Regions from separate parts of the Homo sapiens genome. Here region 2 is linked to region 1. Evidence: fine-mapped expression QTL. A gene starts in region 1. The other region holds a variant in brackets. All regions are shown on one strand. Distances are from middle to middle. Region 1 holds the start of TOR1B (torsin family 1 member B). Region 2 overlaps FNBP1 (formin binding protein 1).

What was found. PIP is the estimated chance that this variant, and not a neighbour inherited with it, causes the effect. A credible set is the group of variants that fine-mapping cannot tell apart.
Region 2: its variant is the best candidate, but not a certain one, in a credible set for the expression of TOR1B in aorta (GTEx, PIP 0.57).

Annotation. Positions count from the first base shown.
Region 1 is chr9:129,800,270-129,805,639 of GRCh38, reverse strand. TOR1B (torsin family 1 member B) reads right to left here and starts at 2,456. Exons shown (of 5, transcript NM_014506.3): 1 at 2,229-2,456; 2 at 1,302-1,567. The coding sequence starts at 2,427. RefSeq lists silencers at 2,067-2,186, 2,247-2,376.
Region 2 is chr9:129,899,100-129,904,469 of GRCh38, reverse strand. FNBP1 (formin binding protein 1) reads left to right here. Exons shown (of 17, transcript NM_015033.3): 13 at 1,469-1,601; 14 at 3,923-4,044; 15 at 4,369-4,505. Among named protein-coding and RNA genes, the nearest start is that of MIR6855, 32 kb to the right of the region's middle. RefSeq lists an enhancer at 3,688-3,807. The variant C/T (reference allele first, on the strand shown) is at 3,304.

The DNA of each region.
Region 1 (5,370 bases):
CGGAGCAAATCCTTGAAGACTGACTGCCCCTTCTCACCAACTGCACTGCTGGGGATGTGGAATCCCTTCACTCACCAGAGAAGGTGGCTACCATGTCAACTGGGAGTTGGGAGGTTTTGGTTCTGCTACAAAGGTCCTGTTCTGCTACAAAGATTGTAGGAGTAAGTCACCTTGCCTCTGGGCTCCAGGCTCCATCTTTTTTTTTTTTCTTTTTTTTTGAGACAGAGTCTCATTCTGTTGCCCAGGCTGGGGTGCAGTGGCCCATTCTCAGCTGACTGCAACCTCAGCCTCCCAAGTAGCTTGAATTACAGGCGCACGCCATCACGCCCGGCTAATTTTGTATTTTCAGTAGAGACGGGGTTTCTCCATGTTGGTCAGGCTGGTCTCGAACTCCCGACCTCAGGTGATCCGCCCGCCTTGGCGGATCCCAAAGTGCTGGGATTACAGGCGTGAGCCACTGCACCTGGCCCTGACTACATCTCTCTTTTTTTTTTTTTTTTCTGAGACAGAGTCTCACTGTGTCGCCCAGGCTGGAGTGCAGTGGCGCGATCTCGGCTCAGTGCAAGCTCCGCCTCCCGGGTTCAGGCCATTCTCCTGCCTCAGCCTCCCGAGTAGCTGGGACAACAGGTGCCCGCCACCATCCCCGGCTAATTTTTTGTATTTTTAGTAGAGACGGGGTCTCACCGTGTTAGCCAGGATGGTCTCCATCTCCTGACCTCGTGATCCGCCCCCCTCGGCCTCCGAAAGTGCTGGGATTACAGGCGTGAGCCACTGTGCCAGGCCTTTTTTTTTTTTTTTTTTTTGAGACCGAGTACGGTGGCGCGATCTCAGCTCACTGCAACCTCTGCCACCCAGGTTCAAGCGATTCTCCTGCCTCAGCCTCCCAAGTAGCTGGGATTACAGGTGCGTGCCACCGTGCTCAGGTAATTTTGGTACTTTTAGGTAGAGATGGGGTTTCACCATGTTGGCCAGGCTGGTCTCAAACTCCTGGCCTCAAATGATCCGCCCGCCTCGGCTTCCCCAAAATGCTGGGATTACAGGCGTGAGCCACGGCGCCAGGCCCTTGGCTCCCCATCTTTTAATGGAAATAACATCCCCTACCCCACTGGACTGTTTTGGAACCAAGTAAGAGAAATGTTGTAGGAGAGCTTTGTAACTACCTGGACTAAGTGTGCCTTAACTCAGTGGAGCCGGGGGCTACAGCAACACAAAGGAAAGAGAAGCAGAGGCCAGAGTTAGTGAGCAGGTCACCCGGACCAGTCCGACTGGCCTGCAGACGAGATAATAGCGGGTTCTCTTGCCTGGTACAGTTTTATCTTCTGCTCATGAGGGAAGTGCAGAGTCGATACAAACAGGTGGACAAAGTTACTCTTCAGACCTTTTGGGTGAAGATTTTCAGCCACAATTTGACTGACAAAATTCTTGCCTGTGCCAGCCCAGCCGTGTAAGGAAAGGGTCAGTGGTTTCTTGGGATTTTTGTTGTTCCTGAAGCCAGTCAGCGCCTTGAAAATCACTTCCGTGGCTAGATGCTGTCCAAACAGCTTCTCCTCCAAATCCAGCTTGAGAGCTGCAAGAACAGCCCCAGAACAAAGAGAGAAACAGACCTTAAAAATGCATCAGCAACGCAGCACTTTCTTAGCTGGCCAAAGCAAGAAGCACAGATTATCCAGGGACACAGCAGGGTGTCTGCCACACCCTAGGGCCGAGGCAGTCAAACGATGCCACTTTCAAGATTATGTGGAGGTCCTTAACGCTTCGGGGTCTGATAAGGAAGCTAAATGTTCATTCATTCAGAGATGAACCATCGCTTGACTGAGCGCTTGCTAATCCCAGCCACCCTTGCTGACCTGCAGGAAAACCAGGGGCCAAATGTGGGCTTTCTGGGCGACGCAGCACGTCTGAAAACTACTTAATAGGGTTGGCAGGGCGCAGAAGGGCCGCCCGCCTACTTTCCGTTTCTTCCACCTGTGATCCCAAGGAACGGGAGCTTTAGAAAGGCGCTGGGGCAGCCCCACGATCTGGAGACTGTTTGCGAAGGCACCGCTTCTGCGTTCCCGCGAACGGTTCCGGGGCCGCCCCATCCGCTCCCCGCCCACCCCAGCTGGGACCACCGCCGTCTAGATGCCACGGGCCCGGTCCGTGCCAGGCGCCCACGAGGCCGTCCCTCCGCGCCCCCGCGCCCCCGCGCCCCCCGCAGCGCCGACCCACAGCTCGCGCGCGCGCCGTACCCGAAGCGTTGAGCGGCCGCTCCTCGCGGCAGCACTCGGCGAAGCGGCAGTAGATGTCATTGTAGGACAGGTAGCCGGTGATGGCCGACGCGGCCCCGATGGCTAGGCCCACGGTGATGGGCTCGAACGCCGCCACCACTCGGGCCGCCAGCAGCAGCGCCAGCGCCGCCGCGCCCCGGAGCCACCCAGCCCGCAACATCCCGCTCCTCGAAGCCCGCAGAAGCCACTGAGCCAGGCGCCCCGCGGCCAAGCGGCAGGACGGACTTCCTCTCGTGCGTCACTTCCGCCCCGCAGACCCGCCCACTCCCTTGGGGGCGGCCATGTTGGTGAGGGGCGGAGAGGAGGGCGGTGCCATCGTTCTTGGGAGTGGTCCGAAGGTGTAGGAGACTGTTTTGTTTCCCTTTTCTTTTAAAAAAATTTTTTCGGGCCGGGCGCGGTGGCTCACGCCTGTAATCCCAGGACTTTGGGAGGCCGAGCCGAGATCACGCCATTGCACTCCAGCCTGGGCAACAAGAGTGAAAAAATATCTAAAAAAAAAAAAAAAAATTTTTTTTTTTTGGCCGGGCGCCGTGGCTCACGCCTGTAATCCCAGCACTTTGGGAAGCTGAAGCGGGCGGATCACCTGATGTCAGGAGTTCGAGACCAGCCTGCTCAACGTGGCGAAACCCCGTCTCTACTAAAAATACAAAAAATTAGATGGGTGTGGTGGCGGGCGCCTGTAATCCCAGCTACTCGGGAGGTTGAGGCAGGAGAATCTCTTGAACCCAGGAGGCGGAGGTTGCAGTTAGCCGAGATCGTGCCACTGCACTCCAGCCTGGGCGACAAGAGCGAAACTGTCTCAAAAAAAAAAAAAAAGGCTGGCCGGGCGCGGCGGCTCACGCCTGTAATCCCAGCACTTTGGGAGGCCGAGGCAGGCGGATCACGAGGTCAGGAGATCAAGACCATCCTGGCTAACACAGTGAAATCCCATCACTACGAAAAATAGAAAAAATCAGCCGGGCATGGTGGCGGGCGCCTGTAGTCCCAGCTACTCGGGAGGCTGAGGCAGGAGAATGGCGTGAACCTGGGAGGCGGAGCTTGCAGTGAGCCGAGATCGTGCCACTGCACTCCAGCCTGGACGACAGAGCGAGACTCCGTCTCAAAAAAAACAAAAAAAAGCCAAAAAAAATTTTTTTAAACTTTCTTATATTTTTTTCTTATCTGATATGTATATTGGGGACAGGGTCTGGCTCTGTCGCCCCGGCTGGAGCGCAGTGGCAGGATCTCGGCTCGCTGCAAACTCTTCCTCCCAGGTTCAAGCGATTCTCCCATCTCAGCTGCTGGAGTAGCTGGGATTATAGGTGCCCGCCAACACGCCCAGCCAACTTTTGTGTTTTTAGTAGAGACGGGGTTTCGCCATGTGGCCCAAGCTGGTCTCGAACTCCTGACCTCAAGCGATCTACCTGCCTCCGTCTTCCAAAGCCTGGGGTTACAGGAGTGGGCTTATGGCTGGATTTGTTTTCTTCAGAGCTTCTCGGAGCCCTCAAGCTTTGCTTTGTTATCCCTCCCTTCACTTCGCCGGAGGTATAATGTGCGTTTCTTGGGTCGGCCCACCCGCCTGCCTTCTTCCTGAAACAGTTGCGAACTCTCCGTGCTGCGCCCTAGACTGAGCACTGGGGATGCAGCGGCCCCAAGACAGACCTGCCCAGGCTTCCACACTGAAATCCCGAGGTCCATTCTTTCATTCAGCACGCTAGGTGGCAGGCCCCTTGCTGGATGCCAGGAACGACAGCAGAGGAGGGGACGGAGTTGGCCCCTGCCCTCTCAGAGCTGACGGTCTATGGGGGAGGCCGACAAAGGGGTGAGACTCAATGCTGAGTGGGCAGAGAAGTATCGGACAGTGGTACAGGGAAGGCTTTTGTCTAAGCTGGGCACTGAGGGAGTTAGGCCAGGCAAAAAATGAGTAGAGTGTTTTAGGCAGAAAACAACAGTCAGTTTGGAGAACTGAAAGGATTCCACATGGCGGAAGGTGGTGAGAGATAGGGATGAAGAATCAGGCAGAGACTGGAAGGTGAAGTCCTTGCGAATGTTGTAAGGAGTTTGGCCTCTGTTCTGGGGGGTAATAGGGAGCCACAGAGGGTTTTACACAGGAAGCAACATGGTCAGATCAGAGATCATTCTGGCTGCTGGGTTCACAAGAAATGGAAGGCAGAGAGCCAGTGAAGAGGCTGTTGCCGTGGTCCAGGTAACTAGTCAGGGAGACAGATGAGCAAGCAGGCAGCTTATGTCCAGGGTGGGCCAAGGCTGTAATGCAGGATGCACAGAGGCCTGTGGGTGGGGAGGGATCTTCTCCTCCCTATCTCAGTTGCGATCTAAAGAATGAATGGAAGGGCCAGGTGCACTGGCTCATGCCTGTAATCCCAGGACTTTGGGAGGCCGAGGCAGGCAGGTCACCTGAGGTCAGGAGTTCGAGACCAGCCTGGCCAACATGGTGAAATCCCGTCTCTACAAAAAATACAAAAATTAGCCAGGTGTGGTGGTGCGCGCCTGTAATCCCAGGTACTCGGGAGGCTGAGACAGGAAAATGGCTTGAACCCAGGAGGCAGAGGTTGCAGTGAGCCAAGATTGCGCCACTGCATTCCAGCCTGGGCGACAGAGCAAGACTCCGTCTCAAAAAAAAGAAGAAAAAAAAAAAGAATAGAAGTTGGCCGTGGGAAGTGGCTTAAACTTTTTTTTTTTTTGAGACAGCAGCTCACTCTGTTGCCCAGGCTGGAGTGCAGAGTGCAGTGGCATGATCTCAGCTCACTGCAGCCTCTGCCTCTTAGGTTCAAGCAATTCTCCTGCCTCAGCCTCCGAGTAGCTGGGATTACACGTGTGCATCACGATGCCCAGCTATTTTTTTTTTTTTTTTTTTTTTGAGATGGAGTCTCGCTTTGTCACCCAGGCTGGAGTGCAGTGGCATGATCTCCGCTCACTGCAACCTCTGCCTCCTGGGTTCAAGCCATTCTCCTGCCTCAGCCTCCCCAGTAGCTGGGATTACAGGTGTGCACTACCATGCCCATCTGTTTTTAGTAGAGACGGGGTTTCACCATGTTGGCCAGGCTGGTCTCGAACTCTTGACCTCGTGATCTGCCCACCTCGGCCTCCCAAAGTGCTGGGATTA
Region 2 (5,370 bases), 99 kb before region 1:
TGGCCCTTAACCCTGGCAGTCATTTGCTCTAAATTTTTAATGACTCGAAGCCTACCAAAAGTGCCCTGCAACAAGGGTAAAATTAGTAGAGCTCTTTGGTCTTCAACCCAAACATGCCCCAAACTTCTCTAGGGATGCCTGCCCGGGCTACCATGGGCTGCTTCCAGACATGATTTCAGGAAGGATGTGGGATCCACAGTGTGTAGCTTTAAGGCTCTGTCACTTACCTGTCGTGGATACCAACTATGGATTCAGTTTCTTAACAGTGGAAATGGGTGTGTGTTAACATTTCCAAAGCAATTGACTGTGCTTCTTCGTCAGGTGAGCACATGCAGCCCGTGAGACCCAGGATGCCAGCTGTAGCTTTGGTTTGCATGAAGAATGCACACGTGGAAATATTTGGGGGTTTTTGTTTGTTTGTTTTGTTTTGTTTGAGATGGAGTCTTGCTCTGTCGCCCAGGCTGGAGTGCAGTGGCGTGATCTCGGCTCACTGCAACCTCCACCTCCTGGGTTCAAGTGATTCTCCTGCCTAAGCCTCCCAAGTAGCTGGGATTAAGGGGACATGCCATCACGCCTGGCTAATTTTTGTAATTTTAGTAGAGACGGGGTTTCACCATGTTGGAAATACTTGGGTTTTGAAGCCAGATTCGGTGGCTCATGCCTGTAATCCCAGCACTTTGGGAGGCCGAGGCAGGTGGATTGCTTGAGGCCAGGAGTTCAAGACCAGCCTGGGCAACATGGCAAAACGCAGTCTCTACCAAAAATACAAAAATTAGCCAGTCTCATAACCTGGTCTCAAAAATAAATTAATTAATTAAAAATTTTTAAAGTATTGGCTTTTATTTATTTATTTATTTTATCTGTGTGGCAAAGGGAAGGGCAGGATTAATTTATGCTTCTCAGTTATTGGGGACAATAAGGAGATAACCATTAGAGAAGAGAACTGAAATTGAAAAATCAGCTTCTTTATTTATAGCCATTGGTAGCAGAATTCCTATAGAGAATTTCCAGAATGGAAGCTGGCCCAATAGTCCCTTATCCATACTCTAATCTTCCCACGTTTCCATTCATATGGCTTTCAAAGTGGTAGAATATTGGCTGATAAGAGTAACCTTTGCCGGGTGGTGCGGTAGCTCACGCCTATAATCCCAGCACTTTAGGAGGCTGAGGCAGGCAGATCACCTAAGGTCAGGAGTTCAAGACCAGCCTGGCCAACGTGGCAAAACCCCATCTCTACTAAAAATACAAAAATTAGGTGGGTGTGGTGGCATGCACCTGTAATCCCAGCTATTCTGGAGGCTGAGGCAGCAGAATTGCTTGAACCCTGGAGGTGAAGGTTGCAGTGAGCCAAGATCGTTGCAGTGAGCCGAGATCGCACCATTGCACTCCAGCCTGGGTGACAAGAGTGAAACTGTCTAAAAAAAAAATGGAGTAACCTTTACAGCATTCTACTCGTTCTTTCTTTCAGAGATGCCATAACAAAAATGAAAGATGTCTACCTAAAGAATCCTCAGATGGGAGACCCAGCCAGTTTGGATCACAAATTAGCAGAAGTCAGCCAAAATATAGAGAAACTGCGAGTAGAGACCCAGAAATTTGAGGTATGAAACTTCTGTTGTGGAAAGCTTTGTTGGAAACGAAGAACAGGTGTTCCTCGGTGTAGAATGGTGTGGGGCCCTGACGATCCTCTCACTGGGAGGTACACAGTGGGAATGGCAGGCTGTTTCAGGAGTTATGGTCAAAGGAAAAATACACTCTTCGCCGTTGAACATTCTCCTACTCATCATAGCCTATCTTAATCGTGGCTGTAAAACCTGACAATGTTTAATGTTGTATCTGTATACGGTGCGGGGTTGGCGGGGTTGTTTTTTAATTTTAGAGACAGGATTTTGCTTTGTTGCCCAGGCTGGAGTACAGTGGCATGCTTGTAGCTCACTGCAGCCTTGATCTCCTTGGCTCAGCCTTTGAGGAGCTGGGATTACAGGCACATGCCACCATACCTGGCTAACTTTTATTTTTCAATTTTTTATTTGTTTTAGAGTTGAGGTCTTGCTCTGTTGCACAGACTGGTCTTGAACTCCTGGCCTTAAGCCATCCTCCCACCTTGGCCTCCCAGAGTGCTGGGATTACAGCTGTGAGCCACTGTGAGCCACTGTGCCTGGCCAGTATTTTTTGTACTTTAAGTTATTCTGCTTCATCTCATGGTAATAAAATTGGGAGTATAGAGCGATCCGTTATCCCAGTGAATCAAAGAAGCAATGAAAAAAATCCCCTGAAATATACAATTGTTCTCTCAGCAGGCCCATTATGGAAAGGGTGTGTGTGAGAACCAGCAGCAAACACAAAGGAGAAACAAGCAGGAAACATAAATAATCAAAGCTTGAGGGAGGGAGAGGAGCACTCAAAAGCTGTCAACAAAAGCCTCCTGAACCCACTCTCCCTACCACGTTTAAAGACTACAGAGCATGGAAAAATACATTAGCAACCGATTCTACCAGTCAGAATAGATTGTTTCCAGCAATGAAGGGTCAACTATGGCTTTTTTCATTCTTTTTTTTGAGATGAAGTCTCGCCCTGTTGCCCAGGCTGGAGTGTAGTAGCGTGATCTCACCTCAGTGTGACCTCCACTTCCCAGGTTCAAGTGATTCTCCTGCCTCAGCCTCCTGAGTAGCTGGGACTACAGGTGTGTACCACCACACCCGGCTACTTTTTGTATTTTTGGTAGAGACAGGGTTTTGCCATGTTGGCCAGGCTGGTCTCGAACTCCTGACCTCAGATGCTCCACCCACCTTGGCTTCCCAAAGTGCTGGGATTACAGGCGTGAGCCACCACACCTGGCCAGCTTTTTCCATTCTTTTCAGAATCCATCATTAATGTTCATTTGAGCATTTAGAACTTAGAACGGTCCTTTTCTTATTATTATTCTTTTTTTTGAGACAGAGTCTCGCTCTGTCACCCAAGCTGGAGTGCAGTGGTGCAGTCTCGACTCACTGTAACCTCCACCTCCTGAGTTCCAGTGATTCTCGTGCCTCAGCCTCCCGAGTAGCTGGGACTACAGGCATGTGCCACCATGCCCAGCTAATTTTTGTATTTTTAATGGAGATGGAGTTTCACCATGTTGGCCAGGCTGGTCTCGAACTCCTGACCTCAGGTGATCTGCCCACCTCTCCCAAAGTGCTGGGATTACAGGCGCTCACCACCACCCCCAGCTAATTTTTGTACTCTTAGTAGAGACAGCGTTTCACCATGTTGGCCAGGCTGGTCTGAAACTCCCAACCTGAAGTGATTCACCCACCTCGGCCT[C/T]CCAAAGTGCTGGGATTACAGGTGTGGCCACCGCGCCCGGCCTTCTCGTCATTTTTATTCCTTTGACTTGTTTATACTGTTTCAAATGCTGAAGGTCATTTTATCTACTTTAATTTTTAAGTACAAGTTTCATTTCTATCAAAAAAAAAAGTTACACTCCTAAAAAATAGGAAGTGTGGCTTTCAAACTGAGTCACTGCTTTAAGCATGGCTGTACCTTCAGGTATCACAGGGCGACCTCATGGTCAAGAAGGAACTAGAAGTGACTTATCCAAGACTGCACTGCTGCTTAAAAGCCCAAGGGGATAGCATAGTCCAGTGTGCTTTCTGCCCCATCGTGGGCAACCACATAAATATGAGTTTGTTTCTATGTCTCCAACTTCGGGTGAAATGGAAGCAACCGTCCTTCAGTACATTTGAACAGTCGAAGGCAGAAAACGTGGCCATTCTGCCCCCACGTGGACTTCCTCACATTGGGTTAAATGGCCAAGAGTAGCCCCTGAGTTTGGGACCTTAGGATGCTCCGGGCTGGCCCTCAGATGGCCTTTGGGACCTTAGGACACTCTGGGCTGACCCTCAGATGGCCTTAGGTTGGAGTCTCTCATTGCTTTTGTCTCCAGGCCTGGCTGGCTGAGGTTGAAGGCCGGCTCCCAGCACGCAGCGAGCAGGCGCGCCGGCAGAGCGGACTGTACGACAGCCAGAACCCACCCACAGTCAACAACTGCGCCCAGGACCGTGAGAGGTACAGTATCTGCACAGCGCCTGCCTCTGGCAAGGGAGCCTGTTGGCTTTGTATTTATTTCTAAATTTTGGAATCTGGAATGACCATAAGGCACTTGTTCAATGCCAAAATGTCTGTTGCGATTGACCTGTCACTTTTTCCATGATGCAGATTTATAATTCCACATGGGATGGGTGATCTGAGCGTGCGATGATTTACCATGGCCTCAGTTACAGCACTCGCTGAGGGGCGGGGTTGCAAGTGCTCTCCAGTCGCAGGGACTCAATCTGAGTCCTCCCTGGGGTCAGTCGCTTTAGTTGCTTTGTGTTTTCCTTTCTTGAGCAGCCCAGATGGCAGTTACACAGAGGAGCAGAGTCAGGAGAGTGAGATGAAGGTGCTGGCCACGGATTTTGACGACGAGTTTGATGATGAGGAGCCCCTCCCTGCCATAGGGACGTGCAAAGCTCTCTACACATTTGAAGGTGACATTTCATGTCTGCTGGATTCCCCTGCCTTTTATAAACCATAATATCTGAGTTACTCTTCTTTCACTTTTCCTTCCTTCCTTCCTTCTGATCATTTTTATTCCTTTGTCCTTCCTTCCTTCCTTCCTACCTTCCCTTCCCCTTCCCCTTCCCCTTCCCCTTCCTTCCTTCCCTTCCCTTCCCTCCCTTCCCTTCCTTCCCTTCCTTCCCTTCCTTCCTTCCTTCCTTTTTTTCATACAGGGTCTCGCTCTCTTGCCCAAGTTAGAGTGCAGTGGTGCAATCATGGCTCACTGCAGCCTTGACCTCCTGGGCTCAAGTGATCCTCCAACCTCAGCCTCCTGAGTAGCTGGGACTACAGGCAAGCACCACCATGTCCGGCTCATTTTTGTACTTTTGTACTTTTTGTACTTTTCAGTAGAGACAGGGTCTCACTATGTTGCCCAGGCTGGTGTTGAACTCCTGGATTCAAGCAGTACTCCTGCCTCAGCCTCCCAAAGTGCTGTGATCACAGGTGTGAGCCACTGTGCCTAGCCACACTCTTCTCTTTCTGTGACCAGAACTTTCTTTAGAAGCCTTCCAGATCTGGCCGGGCATGGTGGCTCACACCTGTAATCCTAGAACTTTGGGAGGCTGAGGCGGGCAGGTCACTTGAGGCCAGGAGTTCAAGACCAGCCTCGCCAACATGGTGAAATCCCATCTCTACTAAAAATACAAAAACTGGCTGGGCATGCTGGCAGGCGCCTGTAATCCCAGCTGCTCGGGAGGCTGAGGCACGAGAATCACTTGAACCCGGGAGGCGGAGGTTGCAGTGAGCTGAGATAGCGCCACTGTACTCCAGCCTGGGTGACAGAACGAGACTCTG